2 separate regions of the Homo sapiens genome follow, and region 2 is linked to region 1. Evidence: fine-mapped expression QTL. Tissue or cell type: fibroblasts. Region 1 holds a variant in brackets; the other region holds the start of a gene. All regions are shown on one strand. Distances are from middle to middle. Region 1 holds the start of LOC107987016 (a long non-coding RNA gene). Region 2 holds the start of GSN (gelsolin).

Evidence for each region. PIP is the estimated chance that this variant, and not a neighbour inherited with it, causes the effect. A credible set is the group of variants that fine-mapping cannot tell apart.
Region 2: it holds the start of GSN, and the variant in region 1 is the best candidate, but not a certain one, in a credible set for the expression of GSN in fibroblasts (GTEx, PIP 0.65).

The regions. Positions count from the first base shown.
Region 1 is chr9:121,563,024-121,568,391 of GRCh38, reverse strand. It overlaps LOC107987016 (a long non-coding RNA gene), which reads left to right and starts at 1,408. Exons shown (of 2, transcript XR_001746560.2): 1 at 1,408-1,541. It also overlaps a transcript of DAB2IP not described here. The variant G/CCACCAGGG (reference allele first, on the strand shown) is at 2,321.
Region 2 is chr9:121,265,780-121,271,147 of GRCh38, reverse strand. GSN (gelsolin) reads right to left here and starts at 2,986. Exons shown (of 18, transcript NM_198252.3): 1 at 2,929-2,986. RefSeq lists a silencer at 2,799-3,098.

The DNA of each region.
Region 1 (5,368 bases):
GGTCACTCTGCATGCATCAACTGACCCCCCGTCCCCTGGGCCCAAAGATGCCAGGTCTGTGGGCTGGGCCTTGCCAAGCTTCCCTGAGGGCTGCAGCTCCAAACGTGGCAAAGGGCCCCTCTCCTTGGAAAGGGCTGAGCTCCTGCAGGAGGAAGGAAATTTGGCCTTGAATCTGTGCCAGGCAGCCAGGCCTGGATGGGGTGGGGGAAAGTCCGGAGAAACAAGCACTTGGTTTTCTTAGTAGAACTGTGGTCTCAGGAGGACCTGAACCCCTGGAAGGCTGACCTGACCCAAGCTGGGATGAGGTCGCCCTGCAATTACCACCTCTTCCGAGGCCAACAGGACTTCTCCCTGCTGAGTCCCAAAACCTGCTGCCCCACCCCCCCATGCCCAGCCTCGGTGCCTCGGCCACACTCTTGCACTCTTGCGTCCCTCCTTGGTTGTCCAGAGACAGCCAGGCTGTGCCGGGCATCCCAGCCAAATGTGAGCTCTCTGGCCAGGCTGAGTAGTGCAGGAGCTGAGTTACTGCGTCGCTGGAGCCCCAGGCCTGCAGAAACCACCACGAAGGAACCCTTCCGAGTCTTATAAATCCCTCTTCCAGACTCTGCATGGGCTCTGTCCCGAGCAACTTTTCCCCCAATAATGCATGCAGAGCTTCCAGTGGCCTGGGCAGCTCTCCGGTGGCAGCCACTGGGGCCCTGTCACACGGGGAGTGCTTTCAGCATGAGCCCTGGCCTTTAATTACAAGGTATGTTCCTGTTGCCTCTTCCATCTATATTTATCCGCAGGATCGCACTAATTGAATTCCCCACAGCACAGGGCAGGCCTGGCGAACAGCGAGGTAGGCAGACAGGCAGGGGGGCTGCAAAACTTCCTTCCTTTCCTTCTTGGCCAGGAGCAAAACAGAAGCAGCTGAGAAACTCTCTCTCCCTCCCCTGGACCTTGTCAATGCCTGGAGTCTGAGGGGCTGCCCGCTCCAGGGACCCTCCAGCCCTGAGTCTCATAGCCCAACGCACCCATGCCCACCCATGGGTCCCAAGACCAGACAGTGCCCAGATGCCTGACTGCCTCCCTGCTTCAACTCAGATTCCTATAGCAGAGAAAAGTCTGTTGAGCAGAGAGGCTGAAACCCCCAACTCTGCACTTTGCTGGCACCGTCTTACCGTAGGAGTCGTCTTGGTCCAGAAGGGAGTCGGGCTCCATGGCGTGTGGGCCCCCAGCCCCTGGCCCCACCTGATTTATGAACCGAGGCTGTCTCCATGAGCGTCTGGGTTCCTCCTTTTGTATTCCATCTGGCGGCTTTTCCAACTAGATGACTGGGTATTCCTGCAAGCAGGCCCCTTTCCAGCCCTCGCCTTCATACAGTACATTTAAAGTAGCAGTAACCTCTTTTTCCTCCCCCCGCAGCCTGGCTGGAAACATTAGAAGGGACTGAGGCAGCGAGATGTCTAAAATAGGAAGACGCCGGGACGGTTGGCCTGGCTGCCCGTGATGCTGGCTGCGGGGATCTGGCCCGGCTGTGCAGATGGAAAAGCTAAGAGGTGAGGCTGAGACGGGCTTAGCATCTGGAAGCCGGCTCTGGGGCCCAGGGGGTTTGCAGGAAGCGGGGAGCCCAGCCCCCCAGGGGAGGGGTTGGGGGGTCTGCTCTGTTTACCCCCAGTGCCCAAACCCCAAGGGCTTCTCCCAGGCCCTGCTGGAACCTCCCACTCAAATCTGTTCTACAGACATTTCCCGCAGTGTGGGGGATGCAGAAATTGACTCATCCATCCATTCAGTTAGTCACTAAATGTTTTTTGAGCATCTAGTCTGCACCAGACACCGTGCCCGGTGCTGAGTTTGCAGCAGGGAGCGAGGCACAGTGCCTGGCTTCTTGGAGCTCACAGGAAAGCAGGTCATTGCAGCGCAGTGTGTGGTGCAAGAGCTGCAGGAACAGAGAAGGGGCGCCTCACCTGGATGGAAGAGGTGGTCGGGGAAGGCCTCCTGGAGGAATGGGCACGTAAGCTGGGGCCTAAAGGACGAGAAGGAGTTAGCCAGGTACAGAAGGAGGGAGTGACCTGTGCAATAGCCCTGAGGTGAAAGGGTGCGTGGGGCGTTCAGTGCCCCCCCGAATAAGTTCCAGGTGGTTGGAGTAGAGCAAATGATGCGAGGCTGGTGAGAGATGGGACGGGGGAGCCAGGGAGAGAGGCAGGAGTGGGTTGGACAGAGCCTTTGGGGATGACTCCAGGCCTGCCTGGAGGAGGGTCTGTGAGAATGACATGATCCGGATTGTCCTCTGGGAAGGCCTCCCTGGTGACCTTGTAAAAGAGGGGAAGCCACCAGG[G/CCACCAGGG]GAGAGGGAGATGCAGGCTCCACGGCCACAGCTGTAGGAACCCTGGGTGCTATTTATTAAGCAGGCACCAGAGGTGAGCACCATTTCAAGTATTTGCCCACATTGTCTCATACATTCCTCACTATGGTCCCTTCCAGGAGAAACTCTGGTTCTCCTATTTTACAGACGGGGACAATGCAGTTTAGAGAGGTGATGTGACTTGACCAAGGCCACAGTTGTGAGTGACCACCAGGGCAGGTCTGGACCCCAGAGAGTGCACAGCCTTGGTGCTGGGATGGTGGGGAGGACAAAGATGCATCTCAATCAATCTGCATTCAATCTGCATCTCCTAGGCGGGCGTGGTGGCTCACACCTGTAATCCCAGCACTTTGGGAGGCTGAGGCGTGCGGATCACCTGAGGTCAGGAGTTAGAGACCAGCCTGGCCAACATGGTGAACCCCCATATCTCTACTAAAAATACAAAAAATTAGCCTGGTGTGGCGATGCGTGCCTGTAATTCCAGCTACTTGGGAGGCTGAGGCAGGAGAATCACTTATATCCGGGAGGCGGAGGTTGCAGTGAGCCAAGATCGTGCCACTGCACTCCAGCCTGGGCGACAGAGCGAGAGTCCATCTCAAAAAAAAAAAAAAAAAAAAAAAATCTGCATCTTCCTCTCCCACAAGCCCACCCAAGCCACAGGGCAGTACCGTGGGCTTATGGGAGACAGCTTCATTTGGGCTCAACCAGGGAAGGCTGCCGAGAGGAGGAGGTGTTTGAACTGGGCAGAGAAAGAAGAGCAGAATTTGATGGGCCAAGCAGGGAAAAGTGAGGGCGTCCCAGTTAGAGGGAATGGCACAAGCAAAGGCGTGGAGGCAAGAAGGTAACACACAATGGAAATGACAGGTGACTGGGAGGAAGTCAGGGCTGATAAGCAGGTTTGGGCTAGATCAAGAAAGGGCCTGGAGTGCCAGCCTGGGGGTGTGGGCGTGTTCCAGAGGGTGACACACAGCCCCAGCAGGCATTTGTTCCAGGGAAATGACCTCCTTCTCAATGGCTGCCTGGGAGCTCCTGCAAGCGGCTCCCCGCAGCCTTCTTAACGCTCTGCTCTGAAAGCAGGAGAAATCCTCTATCCCCACAGCATGGCTGGAACACTAGAAGCCAAGCCTTGGTGACCTGGTTTTTGGAGACATGGCTCTGGTGCTGGGGTGGAGGAGACATTTAGAGAAGGGAGATACAGGGAGACAGGGAGTGAAGGCAGGAGGCTAACAGGAGGGTCCAGGCCAGGGGTGGCAGAGAGGTAAGAACCCACCGGGCTTGCTCCTGGCCACCCACTGCTGCCCAGAGCAGCCAGTGGCTGCTGACGTGGTTGGCCTGGCTACAGGGAGGTTCCTTCAGTCACTCGTCACCCCTCCTCCCCAACCTCGGATGACAGGGATCCCAGCTCCCAACCTCCCGCTGCCTTAATTACAGGGAGACTGGCCCTACCCAGGCTAGCTGCAGGCACCAGGCTCCCTGGCTCTAATCAGTGGGTAGGGCAGACTGGGGGTTGAGGAGGCAGAAGGGGGAAATCAGGTCCTTGGACCACTAGCCAGTGGACGGATTCAGGTCCAGGTCTCCCTAGTCCTCCAAGGCCCCAGGGGATCTGCGTGTCCATTTGTACATATGCACACGTGGTCTCTTTTCAGATAGAATGTGGTGGTTAGCAGGATGGGGCTGAAATTGACCATCTGGATTTATATCCAGGCTCTGCCACCAACTAGCTGGGTGCCACTCGGTGAGTTACTCAACTCTTGTGAGTCGCGTTGGCAGAATGGGGCTACTCAAGCCCTTACTTCAGATAGTTATTGTGCAGATGAAATGGGGTAATGTGCATCAAAGTCTTAGGGCAGGTCTGGGTGTGTCCTAAGCACTCAGTAAAGGGCACTGCTCTTCCTCATACAAATTTTATCATCTCCCCAGCTTAGTAAAGGAAGCGTGGGAGAACATGGGCCCATTTTACAGATGAGGAAACTGAGGCTCCAAAAGAAAGGACTCAACTTGAGGGTCTACATGGAGGCTCAGGATGCACCCTTCACTCGGCTGGCTGTACCCCCAGAACCTGCTGAGAGCAGAAGTAGTGGGAAGAAGATCTGGACCCCAACTCTGGCTGTGCCTCTAGGCAGTGCTGTGACCTAGGGAGAGGGTCTTGCTTCCCTGGGCCTCACTTTCTTCACCAGTCAAGGTACAGACTTGGATGACCCTGACAGTTCCCACCTCCCAATCCATTTCCCTCTTGTTATGAATTAGACATGTTTAAGTACAACCAGAGCTCCTACCCTCCAGGGATTAATCGTATTGAACATCGGGCACTAGGCTCTGCTTCCCTCCCTTTATGATAAGAGACCCATCTATTTAGTGGCTGCGTAACATTCCACCCTTTGGCTGTGTCACACCTGCTTTGAGCCAATCCCCTATTGATGGACACCTAGGTTGCTGCCAGTAGTCATGATGACAAGCAACGCTGCAAGGACTATCTTGACTGTACTTCTGTGGGCATCTGTCTACTGATCTCCTTAGGAGAAAACCCTAGACATCAACTTGCTGGGTCAAAAGGCGCCTGTGTTTGCAAAATTCCCAGTGTGGCGGCAAAGCGCGTGCAAGCCCCCTCTGTTCTTTTATTCATTCCACCAGCTGTTGTTGAGTCTGATTTTGTGCCCGGCCCTGTAGAAGGCCTGGGATGGTGGGTGTCCCTGCTCCTTTGAATTTCCACCCTAGCTGGGGGGAGACACGCACGCTGTCTGGTAGAAAGGAGTGCTATTCAGAGAATTACATGGGGGCTGCACAACAGAGCAGGTGATATCCAAGCAGCAACCTGCCAGGCAAACAGAAGCCAGCCATGCAGAGTTCAGGGGCCGAGCATCCAGGAGTGGGCAGAGCTGCTGCAAAGCCGGGGTGAGAGTGAGCTGGCTGAGCAGGAGGGTAGGAACGATGGCCAGCATGGCCAGGGCTGGGAACCGCTGGAAGAGTAGTCCAGGAGAAGAGGGGAAGGTCACAGAGGCCACCTCTCCAAGGACCTTGTGGGCCAGGGGA
Region 2 (5,368 bases), 300 kb after region 1:
TCAACCCAACTCGGCCTCCCAAAATGCTGGAACTGCAGGTGTGAGCCACCATGCCCAGTTAAAAGATAGCTTTTTATTATTATCATGCAAACCAACATCTCTCCATTTTACACATGAGGAACCAGAGGCTCAGAGAGATAGGATTTGCCCAAGGTCACCCAAAGAACCAAGACTGGGGGTCCATTTCCAAGTCAGTGCTTCTAACTTCTCTCACACCTGTGGTCTCTGATAAGCAAATATACACACCCAGAGGCCGCAGACACAGGATGTAAAAGTTTTCTTAAAGAAAACCAGAGCTCAGTGTCTCAGCAACGTACCATAGACCAAGCAGAAATCATCTCTATGACCCACATCACAAATGACCCAAACTATTCACATGGAGTAGGGGAAAGTGACCCACTGTCACTGGATGGCTAAAAGTGAAGGCATCCAATCAACGTGTTTGGCAGGAGTGCACACACCATTGTTAACAGTGGCGACCTCTGGGGAAAGAGGCGGGCTTGGAGGGATTCTTTAACAATTTTTGTTTGTTTTAAAACTCATGAAAAAGAAAAAAAAGTTACAATGCTGAATACCTTAGCAACCTTCTCCAGTAGGTCTAGCCTGTTGTCTGCTTTTAGATGAAATTTATAGCAGGTTCTGAGACCTTCAGCTGGGCTTCCAGAATCTGCTGCTCTGACCCATCCCAGTGGCCACTGCTCTAGTTCAGACCTGCAATCTACTTCACTTGAATCATGCAACAGCCTCCTCAGGGCCTTCCTGCCTCCAGATCAGCCTCGTTCAATGCATCCCCTACATCAGCCATTCAGAATAACGAGTTTTTAAAAATCACTGCTCTGTCAAAACCCTTTCTCAGCTCTTCATTGCCTTCAGGATGAGGTCCAAACCCTTAGCTTATAATCTAGTTCCATTTTCATTTAGATTCTCAACCTCCCACCACCCCGCCCTTCTCCCATCCTCCACTCTAGCCACATGGATGGCTCAGAAAATCTCAGTGCCTTTGCACTAGTGGTTCCTGCTTCCCAGAATGTCTTTTCCCCCAACTCCTGTTTCTCCTGGTAAATGATTATTCATTCTGAGGTCTGGCTCACCTAGACAAAATTAGTCACTCCTCTTGCAGGCTGAAGTCACTCTTAATATGGCACAAAAGTGTCAAACAGTATAGATGGCAAGCATCTTGAGGACAGAGAGCTCTGTCCTCTTCCAAGGCTCTTTGGCCCCTCGCAGGGCAAGGCACAGAACACAGGCCCAGAGAAGTGCTGAAAGGAGGGAGGCGGGGAGGAAGGAAATGCCATGCGGGGCAAACCCTGCAGCCACCCCTCCTGGGAGCAGCCTGTTTCCAGGCTCATGTTAGTCCCTAATAAAAGGACTGTGGAAAATTCTGGAGTAAACTTTCCTCCCCTGATTCACACAGAAACCTTCTTTGCTGCTGTGTAACTCACCGAGTGCCAACCCAAGCTCCCCTGGCTGTTTACAATTTCCCTGGCATTTATAAATAGCATGGCCCCAGAAAGAAAAATGGAGTTTCAAAGGAGCTGAAAGCCGACCGTTCCCACCCCCATCCTTCCTCCTCTGTTTCCAAGCCTCTCCCCCTTAACAGCCCCAAGAAACACCAACCAGCACCCCCAAGTGTGTATGTACAGGGAATGCTTGTCCCTTTAGTAAACGGAACACCCAAGAAGGAGGCTAGAGTCCCTCCCAGCAAGGAGTCCGCAAACGGCAGACCGGAATTGGGTCTCAGCCCTACCCTGCCTCACTGTGTGACAATTAGCCCATCATAAACTCTCTGGGTCCTTGACTTTTCTCAACTGTGAAATGGAGGAAATGGAGATGGGGTAAGATTCTAGCAAGCTATGGTCGCTGTAAACGGCAGAGCGGTGAGAGGTCCTGGTGCCCTGGTCAGAAATGTGGTCCTGGGAGAACAGGACACACAGGATTAAGTGTTTGAAAAGTCCCCAGATGCCAAACAAAAGCGAAAGGCACCTCCCCAGAGGCCCCGCCTTCCACAAAGTCCAATTACCCTCAGGACAGCCCAGAATGAGTTCTGGGTGTTTTAAAGCTCCCTTCCATGCTCTGAGGAGGGTGTGAAGACAGGATAAAGCGACAGATGTCTGGGCAGACAAGGAGCTAGGAAGAAAGCCAATGTCTCCTGCTCACCCACACCCCCAGCCCCCAGCCTTCCAAGGACTGGGGCTTCCCCCTGGGCACTGCCCAGACCAGCCAGCCTGCACTGGACCAGAGGGAAGTTGCTGTTATTTAGGTTCTGGGGGGCTGGACCCCAGAAGACATGGGGGCTCAGGGAGAAGGGGTTCCAATCACTGTCTTCAACTCCAGAAGAAGCTTCCGTGTGAGTCAGGGAAGGGAACACTGCAGGGCCGGGGAGAAGCCAGCACCTACAGGTAGCAGGCGCCTGAAGATTTCAGACAGTGTAAGGAAGAACTTTCTAACAGTCCCCAGAAAGAGGAAGCAGCTGGAGAGGAGAGCAGGCACAGGTATCGTCCAGGAGGCAAGGGTCCTCTGAGTGGACTCCCCAGCAGAGTCACCGCCCAGACCGTAGCTGGTGGTCCCCTGCATGCCCGGGTCAGACAACCCAAGTGCAGGGGTGACCCCGGGCCAGTTCCCCCATCCCGGGGGCGGGGTCGAGGTTATTAGCTCAGGTGCTAGCAGCACAGTGGAATCACGGGGTGGAGGCCTGGCCCCTCTCCTCTCCTGCTCCGGCGTCTCCCCATCCCCCAACTCCCATCCACACTCTTTGGTCCCTTGGAAGACGGGAAAAGTGAGCGAGGAAGCCCTTTTCCAGCGATGCCCCCGCGGCCGGGCCGAGCTCCAGGCGCGGGCGAGATAGGACCGGGAAGGAAGGGAGAGGAAGGACTCAAATCAGCCCGGGACCCCCAGATGCCCGGGGCCGGGGCCGCGCGCCTCCCCTACCTGCTGCTGCGGCACTGGAGACAGCGGCTGCTGGGTCCAGCTGCGCTCAGCTGGTTCCGGGCGGCGGGGCGGGGGCGTTGTGGTGCGCGCGGCCGGGGTGGGCAGGGCGCGGGCGGGAGCCGCCCTCGGGGCGGGGCGGCCGGGCAGGCGGGTGGGGGAGGAGCGCCAGGCCCTCCCGTCGGCTGCTGGGCGGGTGGCTCCAAGCTCGCCTTCGTCCAGGGGGACCCCTCGCTTCACCTCGCAGGAAGGCACCAAACCAAGCCCTCTGCTTTCCCCTGGAGGAAACTGAGGCCCGGAGCACGGAGGGGAGATCTGAAGAGGCCTAGGGTCGGGGAGGAGACCCAGGGCAGCTCCTGAGCTGGGCTGGGGCCAAAGAGCTCAGATGGGACGGGCAAGCGAGCAATGCTCAACTAGCACCAGCGGAGGCAGATTTCAGCCCTGGAGAGAACGGACTTCAGGAGGCAAAGCCCTCGAAGAGTGACATAGGCTGCATGCAAAGCAGGGGAGATTCCCTCCCACGGAAGGGAATAAGGAGGAAGAGCGATTCCCAGCTCATTCCGAATGAAGTAACGAAAATGCCAAGTGCATCCCTGGTCCTTAAAGTGGACCATTAAGCAGGCGCCTCGGAGTCAGAAGGCCTGGTTTGGAACCCCAGACATCGACTAGTCCTGTAACTTTGGGCAAGCGAGCTCACATGTCTAAGTCTCCGTTTCCTCGTTTGTCAAATGGGCATCCTGAATTGCCGCTTCATGGGGCGGTTGAGAAGACTCAGTGAGAAAAAGACTCTCAGCACAATGACAGGGACCGTGGCTTCTGCATAAACGGAAGGGATGTTCTTATTAGTGTCATGGCAGATACTGTTTTAGGAGATTGAGGAAATCCACATTGGGTAGAAAGATGAGTGCAAGGTCAATTTTAAGCAAATGTAATACTTTGTTGATTTCAACAACATCTCATATGCATTTGAGACGATAGCCGTTTATAATGCAGCAAGGCATAAGACGGCCTCCCAGCAGTCCTGGTGCACACATGAGTTCCCAGGACTTTTGGAGTTGCCGCGTGACTCCGGTTTGGAAGGATTCACACACTCCACAGGAGACTGCACCACATGACAGAGATGTCCATTCCCAGCCTGGGTGCTGGCAGCAGCCCCATGTTCAGCCAGGGTAAAGCTCCCTCTTAACACAAGGTAAAATGTACTAGAGTCAGTAATTGCCGGGTGCTGGGGATCAGAGCAGAAAAGGCTGTTGTTTAAGTAGCACAGAAGCCAAGAGCACAGTGCTCACTCCCTGGTTTTTCCATTGAATAGCAGCCAGGGAAGCCACAGGACCCAGGGAATCTCACCCTGGCTCTTCCTCCTGCCATTCTCTCTTTGTTCAACACCAGTAAATACAAGAACCATTTCTTGAATGCCTCATGCCATGCTCTGGGCTTCCCACGTATTACCGACTTTAATTCTCACCTCCCTACCTGGCCTCCTAAGGGAGGCATTACCATGTGTATTTTTCAGATGAGCAGGCCAAGCCCACAGAAAGGGTTAAGTACTCTCTGGAGGTCACACTACTGATACTGTGCAGTCTACTCTTCTATGCCTGAGTCCTTGGCCCTCGCTTCTTTGCTCAATGTCTTATGTCACACTCTGCCACCTTTCCTGGCTTGGGAAATTCTGCCCAGTTCCACTTTCTCTGAGAATACAAGCAAGGTATCCACCCCGCAGGGAGGCTCACACCATCTCTGCTACTCTCTGCTTTCTCCAGAGGCTGCCTGGGGCCCAATGCAAGGCTGCTGGGGAGAAAAGCAAAAACACAGGCTTATTTGGCTCTGGAATCTTTGATTACAAGCCCCGGCATACACATGCCTTGGAATTATCTAACATATCATTTCCAGCCCCAGCAACTGCTCTCAGACAAAGGGAGGTGGAACTCTGAATCTGTGTCCCCATAGAACTGGAGAATACCACATCACGATGGAGGAAACATTGGAGAATGTCTGCTCCAACTCCTCCCTTTAGAGATGGAGAAACTGAGGCCAGGAGAGCAAAAGGGTTCACATTCTAAGCTAGATCTAAGGTTCCATATTCTAAGCTGGGTCAGATGCCTACCCATAACCCTGTAATTGCTCCATTTGGTGGCTGGAGAGGAACATGGGAACAGGGTATCACCAGGAATCATTAGAAATGATAATGAAGATAATGATGATGATGATTGATTGATGATGATTGTGATGATGATAACCAATACTTACATGGGAGTGCTCCTCTAGGAACACTTCTAGAAATCTCCTGGTGCTTTGCTTTATGACTCAACATGTGTATTTTATAGCTGGCAGGATATATCAAGTCTGCCTTTCATGGATGCCTAGAAGTCTTCTTGGTATCCTGTCTTCATTCCTTTCTAGATACCTCTTTGTACTTCTCCCCCCATTGGATCTAGGTAAGGTA